Linked DNA regions of Homo sapiens. The protein of the gene in region 2 purifies or fractionates together with the protein of the main gene of each other region. This does not show direct contact. Each region holds a gene or a part of one and is shown on either strand. Other genes may lie near its edges.

Evidence for each region. The genes of interacting proteins can lie anywhere in the genome.
Region 1: the proteins of AGO3 (region 2) and AP3B1 purify together in Homo sapiens (affinity purification with mass spectrometry; 3 studies listed by BioGRID and IntAct, with this or other methods). This does not show direct contact.
Region 3: the proteins of AGO3 (region 2) and ANKMY2 purify together in Homo sapiens (affinity purification with mass spectrometry; 3 studies listed by BioGRID and IntAct, with this or other methods). This does not show direct contact.

Annotation. Positions count from the first base shown.
Region 1 is NC_000005.10:78,109,672-78,116,699, reverse strand, and holds part of AP3B1 (AP-3 complex subunit beta-1), read left to right. Parts: intron 1-465; coding exon 466-574; intron 575-2,776; coding exon 2,777-2,948; intron 2,949-6,345; coding exon 6,346-6,493; intron 6,494-7,028. UniProt on the Homo sapiens protein: Subunit of non-clathrin- and clathrin-associated adaptor protein complex 3 (AP-3) that plays a role in protein sorting in the late-Golgi/trans-Golgi network (TGN) and/or endosomes.
Region 2 is NC_000001.11:35,934,082-35,941,109, reverse strand, and holds part of AGO3 (protein argonaute-3), read right to left. Parts: intron 1-7,028.
Region 3 is NC_000007.14:16,642,728-16,650,074, reverse strand, and holds the start of ANKMY2 (ankyrin repeat and MYND domain-containing protein 2), read left to right. Parts: upstream 1-4,320; 5' UTR 4,321-4,501; coding exon 4,502-4,568; intron 4,569-7,347. UniProt on the Homo sapiens protein: May be involved in the trafficking of signaling proteins to the cilia.

The DNA.
Region 1 (7,028 bases), on a different chromosome or scaffold from region 2:
GATTACTCCAGGATTTAGGCTGTTGAGATGGTTAGGGCAATTTATTGCCTACACTAAATATTTTCTTTTCTTTCTTTTTTTTTTTCTCTCTTTTCCCTCAGTGTCAAGCTATCAACTTGTGTTTGTTATTGCTGTTATTGTATCTGCTTCTAGTTTCGCTCACCTATTTTAGGATATATTACTTTTGTTTAAATCTTCTGTGGGCCAAAAAACACAAAAGTTTTAAAAATTGTATATTTAAAATAAGATTGTTGGTTTAACATAGGGCCTCTGAGTGAGAGTTTGTGTTGTTGTATTTAGGAGTAAAGTGAATCAGCCTTAATGCCAGGACTTCTAACAGTTGCATTCCCTGTGGAGGCCTTAAGCTTGCTTTTGAATTCAGTTATGTTGTTAATGATTAAGTTTGCCAGAACTCTAAATCTCTGAATGAGAATTCATTTATATTTACTTTATTTGTTTAAACAGGCAAAAGAATGGACCCCAGCAGGAAAAGCAAAGCAAGAGAATTCTGCTAAGAAGTTTTATTCTGAATCTGAGGAAGAGGAGGACTCTTCTGATAGTAGCAGTGACAGTGGTGGGTTTTATAATTTATTGGCATATATTATTTACATAGTAGATTACATTCTATATCTCAGAAACAAGGCCTAATCCATAATATTCAGCAGGTAGTTTTAAGTGAAGTTTGTATTATCAAAATAATCCCTTTCATTTATATATCACTCTTTAGTTTTCAAAGTAATTTTTAATTACTAAATTCTCTTTTTACTTTACAATATCTCTTGGATAGTAGCTGATACATTGGTATAGCTGAAACAGGAACTCATACTTTTCTGAATTCTAAACCACAATGCCTAATATATCTATTGAAAAACATAATTTTACACTTGATGAACTTTTAGTGGGGTCTTTAAAAGTAACTTTCTTTTACAAAAACGTAAAGTTTATTTTATACCTTGAAGAGTCTTTTTCTCTTTCATTTTATACTTATCTCTTTCTGTGAACCTCTATAGAGATAAAGCTAAAATTATTAAGTCTCTATATACTATAAAAAAATCAAACTAAAGGTTGAGGGTAACTATATGCAGTGAAAAGAATGCTTAATAGGAAGGATTTAGAGGCCCTGGCTTTTACCTATGCAAATTGAATAAGGCACCTACTTTTCTCTATATCAGATAAATGAAGGGGTACAGTTAAATATTTCTTAAAGTCCCTTCATTGCTAAAATTCTGTGAGTGATTTGCATAATGAAAAATAGATTGTAGTCACTTTCTGATGCTCTTATTAACACTTAAGCTAATAGGCAAATCTGACCCAAGACCAAACGACACCCAACTTTCTCTAAAATCTTTATTCCTTGGAGAACCAGGGCCTGTCACTCTTACATGGTTATCTGCTACCCTACTGTAAGGTAATTCACTCTTCTTTTCTCTGTCTTCCTTATCAAAAATCTTTGTTTTTAGTATCTGATAAATTAATCTGTGATACATTACCTGTAATTTCTTTCATTGTTTATAGCATAAGCCAGTTATCTGACTTAATATGTATGTGCGTGTAACTTGGATATTACCACAAATCTAAAATGTCCTTATTTAGTAGCTTTATTTTAGTAAAATAAACTTTCCTGTTTGTAAATGATGATAATGATGAGTGCCTTACCCTGTGGCAGACCCTGTTGTGTTCTAATCTCCTTTGTATGTTTCAAATCATTTAATCTTCACAACAGCTCTGAAAAGTAACTAGTGTTATCCCCATTTGCTGAAAAGGAAACCAAAACCCAGAGAAGTTGAATAACTTGTTCAGTTTTACAACTGGCAAGTAGAAGAGCCAGGATCTGAATCCGAACACTAACTTGAGAACCCATGCTTGTACCCCTTGTAAGCCGTCTTAAAACAATACAGGCAGTCCTAGGTTTTCACTGTGATGGACCTTCCTGATGTTGGTATTATTTAACCATTAGAATGTTTAATTAAAGGTTATGTTCCTGCCTAAGAGGGCTTCGTTACATAGATCACAGGCAGGGCAACAGTTTGTCCTTTTGTCTGGGACACAACTCTGTAGTTATAGTCATTTTAAATAGTAAAAATTATGCTTCACTTAAAAAATACACATATATTCTTCATGTATTCTCTTCTGCGAACAGTCCTAGCATACCATAATTTACACATAAAACATTTAAAAGTATAATTCCTCAGTGTAACTTGATCATCTCTTTGACCTATGGAAAACTCGTTTACTAGCTCGAATAAGTAATAACTCTTTAATTAGTCATTTTGCCTATTGTCTTTGAATTTGGAGGTCTTTCCAAGTGATTTGAATGGCTCATTTTCCTCTCAAAATTTGTTCCTAAGAAGATTCAACTGTTGCCTTCTTTTACTCTAAATAGAATTTCCCATTACAAGCAGAAGAATTCAAAATTATTTCTTTAGCCTTACATCAATCCTTACGTAATTCTTTAAAAGAAAGTTTTTGACATAGCTATATACTTTGGGGTTTGAAGTGAGATTCCCTCAAATTTGGTTTACTTGGTTCACCTTTGCTTAGCTTTTCTCTCCTCGTTGTCAGAGCATCCTCTGTCTGCCTCCCTCCAAGCTCACAGTGCTAAAGGAATCCATAGAGCTGAAAGAATGGGGTGTGGGAATAAAATGTTAAACAAGTGGTGTCCACTGAACTAAAATTCAACATCTGGTTTCATTTGTGATGAATATTGACAGTTACAGGTGTCCGTGTGTCTAATTAAATGACTATAAATCTAAGAACATCTGGTTCTGTTTTTCAGAGAGTGAATCTGGAAGTGAAAGTGGAGAACAAGGCGAAAGTGGGGAGGAAGGAGACAGCAATGAGGACAGCAGTGAGGACTCCTCCAGTGAGCAGGACAGTGAGAGTGGACGGGAGTCAGGCCTAGAAAACAAAAGAACAGCCAAGAGGAACTCAAAAGCCAAAGGAAAAAGGTAACTTATTTTGTCAGAATTTCCTTCAAAAAATATTCTGTGAAAGTTTGCCCCAGGCAGAGATGTTTCTTATTAATCAAAAAATGGTGAGAGAAAAAAAGTGTGTATTTTTTTCCAGATATTAAATCTTTTTAAAATTAAAGTGCTAGTTGTTCACATTATTTTCCTACTTGTAATGCTTAGCTTTCATTTTGAACTTGAACATATCTTGGGGTTACATTTTGAAAATTGGTATAACCTTGGAAGGCTGAGTTAAGTGATCAAGCAATAGGTATGAAACACTTAATTACCTTTTGTAGCGATTTTGCTGAGGGCTAAAATTAAATCCTTCAACACTTTGCCATTATGTAACCAAGACAATTGATTTTTCTAAATAATGTTATATTAAAAAGATTATGATCCAAATATTAGAGTCAAGGGCTGTGAAGGAAGACGGTCATAAGATCTTTAAGTGTTAGCACTTTTTAAGATCTCCCATTATCAATAACATTATCATGTATTAAAGTGTCATTAAAATTTTGAGTAATTGGGTCTAATATCTTGGATTGTGCAACTCTGTTTTCCCCGCTGCTGTCAGCGAGTGGCCTCTGCCGACATGATGGTCCTTTCCCCGGGAGCCTGCTGCCCGCTCACTTGATGAGCTTGCAGCCCGGCTCAGTCGTGGCTGACAGCACTGATTGGGGCGCAGTACGCTCTCTGCTCCTTTTATTACAGACAGTAATTAAAGCAGCTCTCCCTGCCACTTCCATAACAAACACAGCATAATGCCCTAATTATGACTTTATTAATTTAAGTCAGGATTTAATGATTTTAAAAGTGATTTATATTGTTTTTCCTGTTCAGAACAAATGAAATCTGTAGGTTAAATTAATACAGGCTTTTCATCATTGCAAAGTTAAAAACCTAGTTACCAGTAAATTCTTTTCATTAGATTAACATCTGAAACTCTAAGCAGTAAGGTAAACAATAATTACCATCAAAATTGAGTGATGCATAATAAAATAACACTTTTACTTTTAAAATCTTATCTTAAAAGCTAGAAGTTGAATATATTTAGAATCATTCACTTGTTGCAGCAAAGGAGCTACTTGGTTTATAATAGCCTTGTCTTTGAGAGAAATCCTGTACTTCTGCTTTAATATCAGCATGTCTATGATGATACGAGTTATAAAACATGTCCTGTTTCTAGAAAGGGAAAGTTTTGTTCAGTGCATGAAATGTCCTTTCAGATGGCAAAAGTCAGTATACTCAAAATTTGTAGTCATGTATTAGGTTTATTATTCTTTTCTTCAGAAATGGATTTTTCTCTTTACCCATGTTTGAATTTAAAAGAATTGTTTATTACAAAGAGAACCACAAATACATTCTAAACCTTATATTTTTAAGTACACATTTTAACCAGTGAATTGGGGATAATAAATTGCCATTTTTTTGCCAGGGAAAAACAACAACATATTTTTCAGTCTTCAAATATAATTACATGTGCTCTGAGATGTTACCATGGCTCCATTTTTAATAAATAGCAATCATATTTCCTCCACAAAAATCAATTCTAGGAAATATTGATTCTTTCCTTGTCTCACTCCTCTCCCTCCCCCTGTATTTTTCTGTCTCAGAATTTTTTTTAACTTTGCCAGTATGATAATTTTTTAAAGCTCCTAATAAGCTTTAAACATCTTCAAAAACCACCCTTTAGTAATCATAAATATTTATGACCAAATTTAAATTTTACACTCCAAGGTATTTTCATTTGAAGGGAGATAGTATGACATAGTGGAAAAAATACGGACTTTGGAATGAGACAGGCTTGAGTTCAGATTCTAGTTCTGCCCCTCTTGTTATGTGCCCTTGAGCAGGTTATTTAACCTTTCTAAATATTAATTTCATTATTGTAAATGGGATAATAATGTACCCAGGAAGAGTGCATTTAAATTAGATAATTAGTATGATTGGTATGAAGTGCCTAGCCCTTTCTGGCCCACAGTAGATTCTTAAAAAAATACACACACATGTGGTAGAGAGAACTAGACCTTTAGTTTCCAGGAAAATATAAAGCACCACAAGGCATTTGTCATCCCCTGAGAGAAGGGTGTTTGGTCATCTCACATGTTATTCCTTCTCCTTGGAGAACTGTTTCCCTGCCCATCTGCCAGCCTTACTCCTATATCTTGGCTTATATGTCTCTTTCTCCAGGAAGCATTCCTAATTGGATCAAGTTTTTTTAGGTGTCTCTCCACATGTTCTCCTGACACGCTATAATTTATTACTTATTACTTATTATACTGTATTATCACTGCAACCTTATCTGTATCCTCCAGTGGACCGTAGACCCTGTAGGGTAGACACACAGAGATCCTCTGTGTCTTACTAACCATCGTTATCCTTAGCACCTAGCATAATGCCAACATGTAGTCAATAATTAATAAATATTTGTTGAGCAGGTGAACAAATGAATGGTGTTAAGCACTTAGGTATGATCATTTGATATTTTAAAAGTTTATATTTGATTAGCTTAAATTTTTAGCAAGATAGTACTTTAGAAGAATTTCCTTTGAACTGGTTAACATTTTCTCATAGAATGTGTTTAAGGTCACATTTGGGAACTTGTGTAAGTAATTTTCTTGGGTAGAAAATGTATAAAATACAAGTCTATTTTAGCAGAAGTAGATATATAAATATTTAAATATATTACTAAACCAGGTGTGGTGGCTCAAGCCTATAATCCCAATATTTTGGGAGGTCAAGTTGGGAGGACTACTCGAGCCCAGAAGTTCCAGACCAGCCTAGGCAACCTAGTGAGACCCTGTCTCTACAAAAAATATAAAATTAGCTGGATGTGGTGGTGCATGCCTGTAGTCCCAACTACTTGGGAGGCTGAAATGGGAGCATCGCTTGAGCCCGGGAGGTCAAGGCTGCAGTGAGCCGTGATTGCACCACTGTACAATGAGACCCTGTCTCATATACGTATATATATACGTATATATACATGAATATATATGTATATACGTATATATATACATGTATGTATACATACATACACACACACACACACACACACACACACACAGGCACAGTATTTTGAGATAGCGTTTTAAAAAATCAGCCTAAATATCTTTAACGTTGTTACTGGTAGTACTTAATTCTTGGTAAATCAAACATTTAATGTTTTCTACATTGCTTTTGATTATATTGTTTAGTGTCATTTTATGACTTTTTGCATTTGAAATTTGTATGACAGGATAGAATTGAATTTGAATGGGTTCTAATTTATTTGGTTATGGGTAATACCTTTTTTATTACCTCATTAATGTATTCTGGAATTTAAAAACAATTTTTTTATAAACTGCTTATATAAAGGAGTTAAAGTTCATATTTCAAAATTTACTATTATGTGTAGTGATTCTGAAGATGGGGAGAAGGAAAATGAAAAATCTAAAACTTCAGATTCTTCAAATGACGAATCTAGTTCAATAGAAGACAGTTCTTCCGATTCTGAATCAGAGTCAGAACCTGAAAGTGAATCTGAATCCAGAAGAGTCACTAAGGTAAGAGATTATACATTTGTTGTAATTGAAGGTAAATATTCTTATAGCAACTAAAATAGACAACACCATCCTCATCTACTCCTGTGATTTTATTTTTTCTAGATAAGCCTTTCCCTTATAACCCAACTCTGCAGAAATGCTAGAAACTTTAAAAAATCTCATCCCTTGCCACTGAAATCAAGGAACTCTTACGCATATGACCTTTTTTGTTCTTGGCTAGGTTGTGACAAGGGGGGGGTTTTGCTGAAGGGGAAGTGAAAGGAAGTCACAAAAATAGTATTGAGCAAAGAATTATAAGTGTACATACATCATAAGAAATTGAGACTATTCACTTTTTAAAAATATTGGGCATTTTGCATAATAGAGTGTGTTTTAAGGCTTCAATTAAAGAGTATACATTCTTTAGTTAGTAAGAATTTGCGTAGCCATTTATTTAAAAACAAATGGAACCACTTATATAATAAAATAATAATGCTTTTTGGTAATAACATTTTTAACACTGAATTTTGCCTGCTTAGCAGGAAAAAAATAAAGT
Region 2 (7,028 bases):
GTTTGGAGGGGAAATCAAGAGGATTTTAAGGATATGCTAAATTTGAGGTGTCTACAAGTAGATGAATAGTAAGCAGTTAGATGAGTGTGGAGTTCAGAGGAGAGGTCCAGGCTGGAGGTGTAAATGTGGGTGTCCTCAGCATAGAAGTGTTATTTAAAACCACTGGATTAGAGATCAGACAGACTGTGGCATGGATACAGAATACTAACCCCAAGGATACTCCCAATATTTAGAAATTAGGGAAATGAAAACAGCAAAGGAACTGGAAAAGTAACAGCCAACAAGGTTGGAGGAGGACCTGGAGAGAGTGGTACCCTGAAAACCAAATGGAGAAAAACAGTGTTTCAAGAAGAAAATGTCATTAGATGTGGATGAAATAAAATGAAGATCTGGGAACTATTGGGTTTAGCTAAGTCTTTGCTGACCTTGATAAAAACAATTCCAGTCAAGTGCTAGGGACAAAAACCCAACTGTAGTAAGTTCAAAAAGAATGGCCTGAATTTGATCAAGCCCTTGGATCCACTAGCAGTTTACAGGAAATTCAAAGGATTATGTTAAATTAAATTGTAAAGATGGAACCAGCAAAATCCAGATCGTGAAAAATTCTAAAAGGACAAACAGCCCATAAATTGCAGAGGAGAAAAACAAGGAGAGAAAACTTACCGATTAAGACACTTAAAAGACATATCGATCAATCACAATGTGTAGAACTTATTTGGATTTTGAATCAAAAATTTTTTTTAGGCTGGGCGTGGTGGCTCATGCCTGTAATCCCAGCACTCTGGGAGGCTGACGCGGGCGGATCACCTGAGGTCAGGAGTTCAAGACCAGCCTGGCCAACATGGTGAAACCCCGTCTCTACTAAAAATACAAAAATTAGCCGGGCGTCATGGCGCATGCCTGTAATCCCAGCTACTCAGGAGGCTGAGGCAGGAGAATCGCTTGAACCTGGGAGGTGAAGGTTGCAGTCAGCCAAGATCATGCCACTGAACTCCAGCCTGGGCAACAGAGTGAGACTGTATCTCAAAAAAAAAAAAATTTTTTTTTAAGGCAAACAGTTTAAAAAATAATATGTGAGACAAGTAAAAATTTGAACAATGATTAGAAATTTTTATAAGTGATTATTATTTTGCTGTGATAATGGTACTATATCATGAGTCCATAACTTTTATAGTTACTACTAAATATGAATAAAATCATATTATACCTAGAATATGCTTCAAAAATATAAAAGAGGGAAAAGTAGAAGAGAAGCGATTGGACGTGGGTTGATGACTGCGTTTGGGTGGTGGGTACAATAGAGTTTATTATACAGTTCTGCCTATATGTATACATCCTAAATTCTCTATAGTAAAATATCATAAAAAAGAGAGAAATGGCCATTTCCTTTGCATGTGTCATCTCTTCTTACTATCCCATTGTACAGATAAGAAAATTAAGGTTAAGGAAGATTAAATGCACTGCCCAAAGTAGCAGTTAACTTTTTCTGATAGACTATTTTAGGGAAGTTTTAGGTTCACAGCAAAATTGAACAGAAGGTAGAGATTTCCCATATGTCCCAGGCCTCCTGCCCTGACATACACACAGACACCCTACTATCAACATCCTCTACAAGAGGAGAACATTTGCACTCAAACCTATACCGACACATCATTAATAAATTTCAGTTAATTTAAGAGCCAGAATCTGTCTCTAAAACCCATGTTTTTTACACTATATCATACTGTCAATTTTTTTCTCCATGGTCATTACTTTACCTGGTGCTTTTTAAATAATTTGGCACAAAGCAAAATTCTGTTGCATGAATAAGCAATGAACAGAATTCTATAGATACTAATCAAGTTTAGTATCCAGAAAATATTCTGGATATTTTCATAATATCCAGAATATTATGAAATATTTACATTACATAATAATGTAAATTAGCAGATGAAACAATTCTGTCAATACAATGAATTATACTTCCAATGAAGCATATTTTAGTTATTTAACAAATACATACTGCCCACTAGAGTTGGAAATATAACTACACAGAAATACAAAGCACTATCTGGACTTTCTCCCTATATCAAACTTTTCTTTCAGCAGTTATTGTATGTACTGGATAATAACTAACCAAACTAAATTTCAAACATAAAACCATACATTTCCAAAGCATACATGTGTCCATGTTGTTCACTCATCTAGTAATCCAATGTGTACCAGTTGGAAAGTCTAAAGCTAAACAATAGCCTACAGCAAATGTGACTGATGAAAAAAAACAAGCAGTGAATAAATCAAAATCAACTATAACATATACTATAGCCAATTACTAACTTATAGATTTTCACTGGAAACATTTTCTTTAATATTCATGGAATACTGTTTCAATAATTCTACTTCTAACAATTTATCCAAAAGCAAGCACTGGACCAGTATACAAACACATATGTACTAGAATACTTACAAAGTTTTAGTCATAATAACAAAAAACTGGAAAAAATCTAAACCACTATCAATGAGACTGATCAATATACAGATAAAATTAAATGCTATGTACTCAGTATAAATTATTATACTATTATATAGATGTAAGTAATGATATGGGAAAGATACTTACGACACATTACTAAGTGGAAAAAGAAGGTTAGAAACAATTCGTATGATAAATATATGGACAGACGGATGGATGTCTGGGAAGATATACAAGAAAGAGTTAACAATGGTTTCATCTGGAGGATAGGATCATACTTTCATCTTCTATTTGAGACATTCTTATATCGTTTGTTTTTTAAAGTAATAAACATGTAGTTATTATTTTATAATTGGAAAAAGAATGCATTTTTGGGCCGGGCACAGTGGCTCATACCTGTAATCCCAGCACTTCAGTAGGCCAAGAAGGGTGGATCACCTGAGGTCAGGTCTGGTTCAAGACCAGCCTGACTAACATGGTGAAACCCCATCTCCACTAAAAATACAAAAATTAGCTGGACGTGGTGGCGGGCACCTGTAATCCCAGCTACTAGGGAGACTGAGGCAGGATAATTGCTTGAGCCCAGGAGGCGGAGGTTGCAGTGAGCCGAGATCATGCCATTGCACTCCAGCCTGGGCGACAGAGCAAGACTCCGTCTCAAAAAAAAAAAAAAAAAAGAATACATTTTTGTTTTGGAAAAAGAAATATATTGTGTTGATCTCAAAATCTGACTTAATGAAATGTCTCTGATTTTATACATGTTAAGTCTGCAAAGCTACGTAGTAAACAGCATGGAACTTCAGGAACCTCCTACCTGCTAATTCCACTTTTTCATTCAATGAATCTGTCCAAACATACCGCACTTATTATTAGGCTCATTACAATTAAATAATCACTTATAGAACATCCAGCCAGTTGAGGGTTAAGCTTATCAGGTGGCAGTATGGGAAACAATTTATTTCTTTTTTTGAGCAGAATCTCGCACTGTGGTCCAGGCTGGAGGGCAGTGGCACGATCTTGGCTCACTGCAACCTCCGCCTCCCAGGTTCAAGCAATTCTCTTGTCTCAGCTTCCCAAGTGGCTGAATTACAGGTGTACGCCACCATGCCCAGCTAATTTTTGTATTTTTAATAGAGATGGGGTTTCACCATGTTGGTTAGGCTGGTCTTGAACTCCTAACCTCATGATCTGCCTGCTTCAGCCTCCTAAAGTGCTGGGATTACAGGTGGGAGCCACCACATCCGGCTGGGAAACAATTTTTTTTTTTTTTTGAGTTGCCCAGGCTGGAGTGCAATGCCGTGACCTCAACTCACTGCAATGTCCACCTCCCATGTTCAAAGGATTCTCCTGCCTCAGCCTCCCGAGTAGCGGGTATTACAGGCACCCGCCACTATGCCCGGCTAATTTTTTGTATTTTTAGTAGAGACGAGGTTTCACCATTTTGGTCAGGCTAGTCTCGAACTCCTGACCTCAGCTGATCCACCTGCCTCGGCCTCCCAAAGCACTGAGATTACAGGAGTGAGAAACAATTTTTAAAAGGCATTTCCTCCCTTGAAAATAAAAGGGGACATTTCCCTTGTTATTAGTAAGAGCCCATTTTGCAATCTATTCTTTCATCATTTTTAAAGTTCACAGAAATACTATGTCTCTCTCATATTGTTAGAAGATTCAGAAATCAGTTAAAATACCAAGTATTAGTAATGACTCAAAAGTAGTATTATGTAAGCTTACAATTGAGAACACATTCTTGTAAAATTTCTTCTACAAATGAAAAACCTAAAAATATGGGTGGGCATGGTGGCTCACTCCTGCAATCCCAGCATTTTGGGAGGCTGAGGCAGGAGGATCATTTGAGCCTAGGAATTCAAGACCAGCCTGTGCAACATAGTAAGATCCCGTCTCTACAAAAAATATTTTTTTAATCTAAAAATGTCTCACATCAATAGACTGTAGATACCACGTTCTGATTTCCCAAGAACTTGACAATTTGGAAATGATGTATAAAATAACTGGCTGATGTAAAACAAGGAATTCTAGGGCAGGTGCAGTGGCTCATGCCTGTAATCCCAGCACTCTGGGAGGCCGAGGTGAGTGGACTACCTGAGGTCAGGAGTTCAAGACCAGCCTGGCCAACATGGTGAAATCCCATCTCTACTAAAAATACTGAGCCAAGATCACACCATTGCACTCTAGCCTGGGCGACGAGAGCAAAACTCTGTCTCAAACAAACAAACAAACAAAAAACAAGGAATTCTTCATTTCCTTAAACTGACATTTCAGACTAATGCACACTTTTTTTTATTATAACCAAACCACAAAATGCCCACATTTTAATGTATAAGAGAAAGCATCAGTTGTGTGACAAGGTTTTGCTGAATCTCAATAGTTGGTTTTTTTTTTTTAAGCAGTGGCTAGCCAAAGAAAGTCATTAATATTAACACAGATAATGGCAGAAAACCACAGAAACTCCAAATACAGAAAGGCTGTTCATGTATCCTAACAGCATAACCATTATGGCTGAAAAACCACACAATATTCTTTCTCACATCTGTTTTGTTAATGAGCCAAGAATGAGGGTCTATTCAGTATCCAAGACAACTGAATTAGAAGGTAGGAATGTCTGGTAAATGCTGTTCATCTCAACAGTCTGAGACTAAACAGGTCTGGAAAGGATACTGATCTTAAATAAATTATCTTTTTAGTTTTACCTTCCTGAAAACAGAATTATCACTTTGGTCTTTTTTCCCCTACCCATTAGCAACAACAAAAACTTATAAATTACTTTTTAAGATTCTAGTTTTAAGTACTATAAGATAATATGTTTTGTTAGATTAATAATATTTTAATTCACCTTTCAGGTAGATCCTCAAGTATTTTAAGAATATAGAAACCGATGTGAAACTAGATGGCTATATTATAAAGCAAAATGGTATTCAACTAGAATCCATCAGCTTAGACAATTTGGCAAGAAATCTACTCTGAGCCAGGGTTTTTCCATATACAACAGAGAATTCTTCCAGGAAATGTCCCCTTTACAGGGCCCCAGGCCTCTTTGCATACTGTCAGGCCAGGCAGTAACTAAAAAACGCAATGTTCCCATTGGAAGATATAAACTAATACAAATTAATTCTAAATTACCAACTTATTACATACAATTCTCCAAAAAAGCAAAATGAAGTAGCATGTAGATATCTTTTCATTCATTCTAATGGCTTTCCTAAATAACTTAATTCCTTAAGTTTTAAAAAACTAAACAGATTAGTTTAGAATTTGGTTTAAAAATGTAAAGAACGGTTATATGAGGCTGATAGAATCATGGGTAATTTTGTAAATGTCTTCATGTTAACTGAATTATATTTGAAGGTTATCTATATGTCTTTTCCCTTAAGTCTTTTTTTAGAAGGAAAAATTTATTTTATGTCTCAATTTTTGTTTTCCCTCGGAGTCCCTTCATTGAAAGAGAAATTCTAAACCAAATATCAAAACAATCTTGCACATTTTTATAAGTCCCACTGCCAGTCAAGTGCAATAAATATATTTTTTTTAAGTCATAATGGTCACTCCAGGGCAGCATAAGCCAAAATTTAAGTGACAACCCAGTAGAAAAACCTTTATCACTTTCAAAATTCATGCCCACAGACAGAGCAGTAATTTGATTTTTTTTCTTCAAGGCAAAGAACTACAAGTGAGAAAATTTATATAACGACAAAAACATTTCTCAAAGTTATTAAAGAAGATTGTTTTCTGGGAGGCCGAGGCAGGCAGATCACCTGAGGTCAGGAGTTCAAGACCAGCCTGGCCAACATGGTGAAACCCCGTCTCTACTAAAAATACAAAAAATTAGCCAGGCATGGTGGTGCGCGCCTGTAATCCCATCTACTCGGGAGGCTGAGACAAGAGAATCACTTGAACCCAGGAGGCAGAGGCTGCAGTGAGCCAATATCATGCCACTGCACTCCAGCCTAGGCGACAGAGCAAGCAAGACTCCATCTCAAAAAAAATAAATAAATAAAAAGAAGATTGTTTTAAATACTAAATTGGGACCCTGATGGCATTACATATTTTAGTAGGTATTTTTGACCCATAATTTTTATCTACATCATTCAAATCCCAATCTTGATTTAGTTCTAGCTTCCCATATATGCAACTTTTATTCCTTTGGAACTTGGTTCCAAATAACTTTTCTAAAACTTTTATTATTAAATAAACACAGAACTCTAAAACAACTATTTTCAGACATGAATTTAAAAGTGTAAATAAGAAAGAAACAGTCTATTCACTTTTGCAAGACTGTATAAAACTTCCACCAAACATCAAACAATTTGCATGTCATTAATTTAAGGTAAAAGTAAATGTTTTTCTTCCATTATAAAGTGTAGTTCCTCTGTCCTAAACGGTAGTCTAACATTACCTGAAAACATAGACTAGAATAGTATGGACCTAAAAAATGAGTACTCAGGAGAAGTAACATCATCAAGCATTTCTGCAGCTCCCTATTCCCACTTTATTTAGAACTGAAACATAACCTATACTCTTAGTTCAGCAGTAATTAGACCATAAAAAACGGTGTTTCATC
Region 3 (7,347 bases), on a different chromosome or scaffold from region 2:
CAAGTATAGAAAAAAGAACATTTGTATTTATATTACTTTCTTATGTTGTGTTTAAAAAAAAAAGATTTCTTAGAGGCTGTAATACTTCCAAATTTTCTTTTTAAAAACTTCATTATGGAAAATCTCAAATATATCCAAAAGTAGAGAGAACAGTATAATCAAGTGAATATACTCATCACCCATCTTCAACTGTTAACATAGTCAATTTTATCTCATTTATATTCTCATTCAGTCTCTCTTCCTTTCTGTCACAGAATTATATTAAAGCAAATCTCAGCTGTCTTCTCATCCAGTTCTGAAATAATTCTGTTCCTATCTCTAAAAGATAAGTAATCTTTTAAAAATATAACCGTAATCTACTTCCAACTTAAAAAAATCAAAATTTCTTATTATCAAATATCCAGTCAATAAAGATACCTAAGTCTAAGGAAAAAAAGTCAAATGTCAAGACAAACAGTACCCTGAAAGATGTAATACTCAAAAATGCAACAAAAAGGCAGCATTCTCCTAATGTAGAGAGCTGGAAATCAGGGTCTTTAATGGGGAAATCTAAGAATGGCATGCCAAATTTGTAACATGTGCACAAGAACAATTTTTCTTGGTTGATAGCATTCATCAGAATGTCAAGAAGCTTGAGATCCAAAACATTTAAAGACTTTCTGCCTCTGGTTATGATTGTGCGTGCTTAGTGCCACCTCACCTCACATTGCCAGGAAGGATTAGTCAAGTAGGAAAACAAATCCACCTAAAATAACTTAGAAATCAAACTGAATTCAACTCAGCTTGTACTGAGCATACACTAGGTGCAAGACACTGGGTTAAACCTGAGAAACAAAGATAAATTTGACCTAGTTAATGTATACTGTAGAATGAGAAGGGACCAAACAGATTAATAATAACTATAATAGAATGCGATGAGAAAGTGCTTGTTTTAGGTATTTTCATGGAGATTCAGATGAAGAAGCAATGATGTCAATTTAGGGGGGCGGTAAAAGAGGGGTCGCTAGAATCCATAAGAAGAGAGAATTAAAGGCTGCCAGCAATGATACCAGTAGCCATGTTGCATATCAATATCCTCCATGTACAAAGATTTTACTTATAACCCTTGCCAAGAGACATGAATAAATGTATTTACTAGCATGTATATTTCCCTTACTGGATAGAGAGGGAGAGATGAACACAAAAGCTGAAGAAAAGAGGTTTTGTTTAAATTGTGTCTGGAAAGTTGAATAGTTCATCAGATCTGGAGAGGAGATTCAGTGAAAAGGGAAGGGAAATCATTCAGAGGAGGAGAAAAGCAGGAACAAAGGGGTGGAAATTACCGGCAGGTTGGGGAACAAGCAGAGTGGTGACCTTAGAGCCCAGTGTGTGGGAGGGCCCAGATGACTGGAAATGCCTGCTGAGACCATGGATGGATTGGAACCTTCCAGGCCAGACCCAGCCCTCTATTCTGTGGCCAGCAGAGAGCCATTCAAAGAATGATGGGTGCTCAATGTTTATTGAACTGGTAGTTCCCTGAATTAGCTAGATGGAGACAGGTGAGAGAGAAGCAGGCTACTTAAGATGCATTGCAATAGCTCTAGAGTGGTAGATATGAGAGGACACATACAACATTTCAAACATTTCAGAAATCATTATTCCAATTCTGACTTGACACTTCCTAATATGGGATTGTGGGCAAATTATTTCCCTTACTTTCTGTCCTCTTATTTGCAAAGTGGGTATAATATTGGCTCATTCCTGGGTTGTCATAACACTAGAATAATTCTATGCAAAGCATCTGGTAGAATATCTAGCACAGACTAAATACTCAATATGAAGTAGCTATCTTATTATCAATAAAACTTCTTTGATGTGAATCTGTTTTAATATGCTCATTATCTAATCTTATCCCTACATTAAATATTTACACCATACAAAACTACTAATGTAATCAATCCATCTAATGAACAGTACCCATTATGAATCTGTTTCTAGAAATGTAAACTGAACATGATTTATTTGCATTTCTAGGTAGATGTTAGATTCTCTTTCAACGTTATTGTCTCTAAATTCACTGGTCATGTATTCAGAGAGCACTAAATACCAACCAAGTGTCATAAGGCATCAAGAAAATAGATAGTAAGCTGCTATCCTCGAGGAACTGACAACCCCAGTGAGACAAACAGGTGTGACCTTCAAGTAACCATGGCCCAGATTTGGCACAAGAGATGGAAATACTAGCAATGAAGTACCCAATTATGTGTATGCATCTGCTGGTAAGATGCTAAATCACATGTTCCAGGAGGTTACCACTCAACTGTTTTTTTAGGTTTGTGGGTTTCTTCCGCATGATACTATGTTATAAATCAATTGTAACTCTGAACTAACAGCATTACAAAAGATTGGTCACTCTCAGGAGCCTTACTACTTGCTTGAACAGCCACATCATTATTAAAGCATCATCCAACAAAAGTATCTTTGTTATACACTGAGATGAATAATTTCAAACCATTTTCATGTAAGATGTTCTGGCTCAGATCTGTCCCAGTCTTTAATGCTGAAGCTTTAGGGGGGAAAAACAGCTGGAGTTTAGGAAAGATTTTTGCTAAAGGCAGGAAATAATGATAAACATATTCCAGGAGATTTCAGATGTTAGTGAAAGCTTCACGCAAAATAAATGCCTAAGGCCAGAGGAAAATGCATTTCGCTTTTCGTATGGCGCTATGAGAAGAAACAGTGGTCCTGGGGATGCTTAACAAAAACCACCTACATAATTACTCAAATATTTCTCTTTGACACATACACGTCTCTTTGACACACATATTGAGAGAAACATCAATACTACTCTGTAGGGAAACAACAGTAAAACATAAACACTAATTTCCAAAGAAACTTTCATTGATGATGTAAATATAAATCTGCACCCTGGAGAAATGACTGATTCCCGCATTTTAGCAAGCAAATCTTATTCTGAAATACACACTTGTATTTACCCCCATCTACCTATGGTCGAAGCTCCAGGCTACATATTACAGTTGAATGAAGGTTGGATTAAGAGGCTAATCTAAGGCTATATATAGGCAGCAACACCAATTTAATCTCCGCCCTCTCCAACCTCCCCACCCTCCACTCCCTATTTCCATAAATCTCAAGATCTGAGTTACAAAGAGAACCGAGAACTCTAGCAGAGCAAAGAAGCCCTTCCTTCCCCCTCCCACAGGCTGTCTCTCATAAACGAAGTATTAGTGCAAGTGTAAATTGTTTCCAAACATCTTTAACAAGCAACATTGGGCGATCAGGTTTTCTTCTACAGCTTCCACAGAGGCCAAAGAGATGACAAGTAGTGGGGAGGGCGAGGATCACCAGCGTAAAAACTACCTTCTCCCGAGTCTGTTCTCACTGACTCGCTAGTAATGGGGCGCTGTCCTTGCGACCCCTACCTAGCCCAGAGCCCCGGCCCCAGCCTCCCCGGGAGCCGCATCTGGCGGTGCCACGCACGAGACCATGTGCACCCGCCACTTCCCACCGCGTGGCTGGCCCCCGCCCGCCCGCCCGCGGTCCCAGGGTCTCCCGAGGCGGCCAAACGTTGCGAGTCGGAGGTCTTCATCCCAGGGCACTGATACCCCGTACGCGCCGTGATGATGAGGTGGAGCGGGGGCTTCTCCACCGCGAGGCAGGAAGCCGCCCCAGGAGGCACATGCTTCCTCCCCGCCAGCTCCTGCCCGATGGAAACCCCGGCGGGGCGGCAGTCGCTACTCTCGCAACCCTCACGGCGCCCCTTGCCTCACCTGGGCTGCTTCTCACCTGTCCGAGGAGGTAGCGACGACGCGCAAGGCTGGGGGCTGCGGCGATTCGTGCAGCAGCAGCGGCAGCAGCAGCAGCAGCAGCAGTGGCGGCAGACAATGGAGGAGTGAAGGACAGACACATTGACATAGACACACGGAACCCGGCGCAGCCCCGCCTCCCGTACCGCCCCCGTCTCCTAGACCGCCCCCGCCCAGACTGCGCCACTCCCGGGGGAATGGTGGGGGTACGGCGACAACCTGGGGCCTCTGCATGCCCCAGAAAGCCGTCGCTGAGCACATAACTGCCAGCTGTAGAATTTTCAATATTACATGTGGCGAAATATTTGAACCGGACAGGATAGGGGAGCGGAACGTGTAGGAGGAATTTAATTCCCCCCTCCAGCTTTCTGCATTTGGTTTTGTCCTCCCAGGTTGCTCCAATGGCGATCTCTCGCTACCGCCTCCTGCGGCTCCTCCTCCTCGGCAGGGCCAATGACAGGCGGCAGGCGGTGACCGCCGCAGGGCCTGCGGAGACCGTCCGCCTGGCTCGCCCGAGCTCGCCCGCTGTCCGCCAGCCCGCGGGAGGGAGGAGAGAAGCGAAGCGTTTCCGCGGTTGGCTACTCAGTGTCTTGGTCTCAAGTTGCCTCATTGCGGCTGGCGTTCCCAATACAGACGCATCGTTTCTTTTTTAATACTCCCTAAGAAAGGGAATAACCTTCAAGCTGGCGGGAGCAATGGTTCACATAAAGAAAGGCGAGCTGACCCAGGAGGAGAAGGAGCTACTGGAAGTCATCGGGAAAGGTACGGGTGCTGGGCTGCGACGCGGCCGCGGCCAGCCTGGCCGGGGGGCGTGGCGGAGCCCGGGGGGCGCTCCTGGCCTGGGTGACCTTTGGCTGCGGTTCTGCAAGGTTTGCAGCCTGGAACCGGGAAAGAGCGTTTCTCCCTTTGGTCTGGGAAAGGTTGCAGGGGCGGAGAGGTGGGGAGGCAGAAGCAGTGCTGGGACAAGAGGGGTAGTTACAGAGGCTCGGCCTCTAAATCCGCTTTTGGAAACGTACGGATTTCCACGCCCCGCCTTAGGTTAATGCGAGCTTCCCGGGGTGTGGACCCCAGTGTGTGAATTCTTCACTGCTCCCGAGGGATTTTGACCGCGGTCAGTCCTGGTAGTTTCAGGTTCTTAGGCGGGTGTCTAAATGACCCTTTAGACTTCCGCAGGCCGAATGATCTGGATCCTTTGCCGATCCCCGCCCCCGCTTGGGAGTGGAGGGCGCCCTTAGGGAGAGGGGTTCTTCATAAGGGTACAGAACTAGGTCTGTAATTTGCTGCATTGAGACTTCCGTATCCAGGGCCTCCCTGGCTTCCAGAAGCCCCGACAGCCTCAGGAACCCTAGAGAGACAAGGAAATTGGCGAGGCCTCCACACCCACCCCTCGGCCCACGTTGCACAGATGAGACCTTCTAATCGCGCTCCTTCGCGCTTTCTTGTCCACTCCCCCAAGGCGTGCCCCACTTCCGCAGTGCTGAGTCCCAGCGGGGAGCCCCGAGGACGAGCCAGAAGCCATATTTCCCCGGAGTCCCCGAGTGGACGTCCCAGAGGAGTTCCCTGCCGAGTCCCGTTACCTGGCAGGTGACATCAGCGTGACTGCATGCTTCTTCTGCACCCTCACGGTGCAGGGATGGTGATGCGTGCGACTCCGGGCAATTAATGTGGTGATTTTAAACTCAATAATAATATAGCCATGTTTGTCCTCGAATGGCAGAGATGCCAGTCATTGCAGCATAAGGCTTCCCAGTTTCCAGTTTTATTTACTTAGTAGCCAGGCTGAAATGTGGAATCCTAGAGAATAAGGCAGATTTATTCTTCATAGCGACAAGGAAACTCCACATGCGAAGGAGAAAAAATTCCGGTTTGAACTCAACAGGTGCTGATGAGCTGAGCCCACCCGATCTGATCTCAACTATTCTAAGTCAGTCACAGCTATATCTATCAATGATGTGTTCTTTGCCTGGAATTTGGGGATTTGGGTTAGAGTTTAGATTGTTGTACTGCATGGTTCTTGCTGACCTATTTGGCATTTCAGTCTTTCAGTTCTTCCTGTCTCTAGGTAATTTCTCCCTGCCTTTGATGGCTCTGGGATTCAATTAAGCAAACATGCAAGTTCTAGCTGTGTGCCAGGTACTGTGCTGGGCAAAAAGGAGACAAAGGATCAATTCACAATCCACCAGGGACAAAAATTCTTTTAGGCAGGACAGAGCTAGTACATGTCCTCTCTCTCTCTCGCTCTCGCTGTCTCTTTCTCTCTCTCTCTCGTTTGTTTGAGACAGGATCTCACTCTTCACCCAGGCTGGAGTTGCAGCTCTCTGCAGCCTCCACCTCCCTAGTGGCTGGGACTACAGGTGCGAGCCACCATGCCCGGCTACTTTAGAAAGATTTTTTTTTTTTTTTTGTAGAGATGGGGTGGTGGGGGTCTCCCTATGTTGCCCAGGCTGCTCTCGAACTCCTGGGCTCAAGTGATCCTCCTGCCTCGGCCTCCCTAAGTGCTGGGATTACAGGCATGAGCCACTGGGCCTGGCCCATCATGTGATCTCTTAAAAGTGAAAAATAGTGAGCAGTTTTATAAATTGAGTCTTTGAGAGGGGAGAAGGGATTCCTTGGATACATTCTCAGGTGTCCATCAGTATTTATTTTGAAGATTATATAAACCTGAATTAATGTGCATTTATTCTGGTTAGTGCTGTGATATTTCTGGGCTCACACGGTGCATCAAGTTGCATGAGTGCACTGATGCTTTCATCGCTTTCATTGGACCATGCCAATGAGAAAAGAACTGATGTGGACCTAGTATGTGATGCATTCTTGTCAAATGAAGGTCTGTGGGACATCACTTGCACTCATAAAGAAAAGTAATGGGAGATATGAGAAAAACAACCATAGCCAACGTTTATTGACTGTTATTGCAAGCCACACATAATTTTAAGTACTTTACATATATTAATGCATTTAATTTGGATGAGCTAGGAATTAATTTTAAGCTATGACAGTATGAGAGACAGCATGGGATAGTGGTTAACCATGCAGGTCTGGTTTGAAATTCTAACTCATTTACTGGTGATGTGGCCTTTGGGCAAGTGACTTTTCCTGAGCCTCAAGTCCTCTGTGTGAAAAATAGGAATAATAATAATACCCACCTCACAACGTTGTTATGGGGATGAAAGTAGTTAGTATAGTTAAAGCATTCGAAATACTGCTTGTGTTTGTGATAAATATAGTAATCTTCACTTTATAGGCAAGGCAACTGAGGAACTGGGAAGTTAGGAAACTTAGTGTCAAACAGGTAAGTGGCAGAAAGTGGCAGAGCAGAGGTATCACAGGGCCCATAGGTAATAAACAGGCTGTACCTAAAAACAAACTAAACAAAACATGAAACAGTACCATAGCAGTCCATACAATATTCACTTTGAGAGGTCATTTAGTTCTAGCAAAACAACATCTGTCAAGTTAACTCAGTTTTAAATGTTACTGATTTTGTAGTTCTGTGTGCATTAAATTTAAAGTAAATTTTTATTTTATAGTTGAAGAAAGG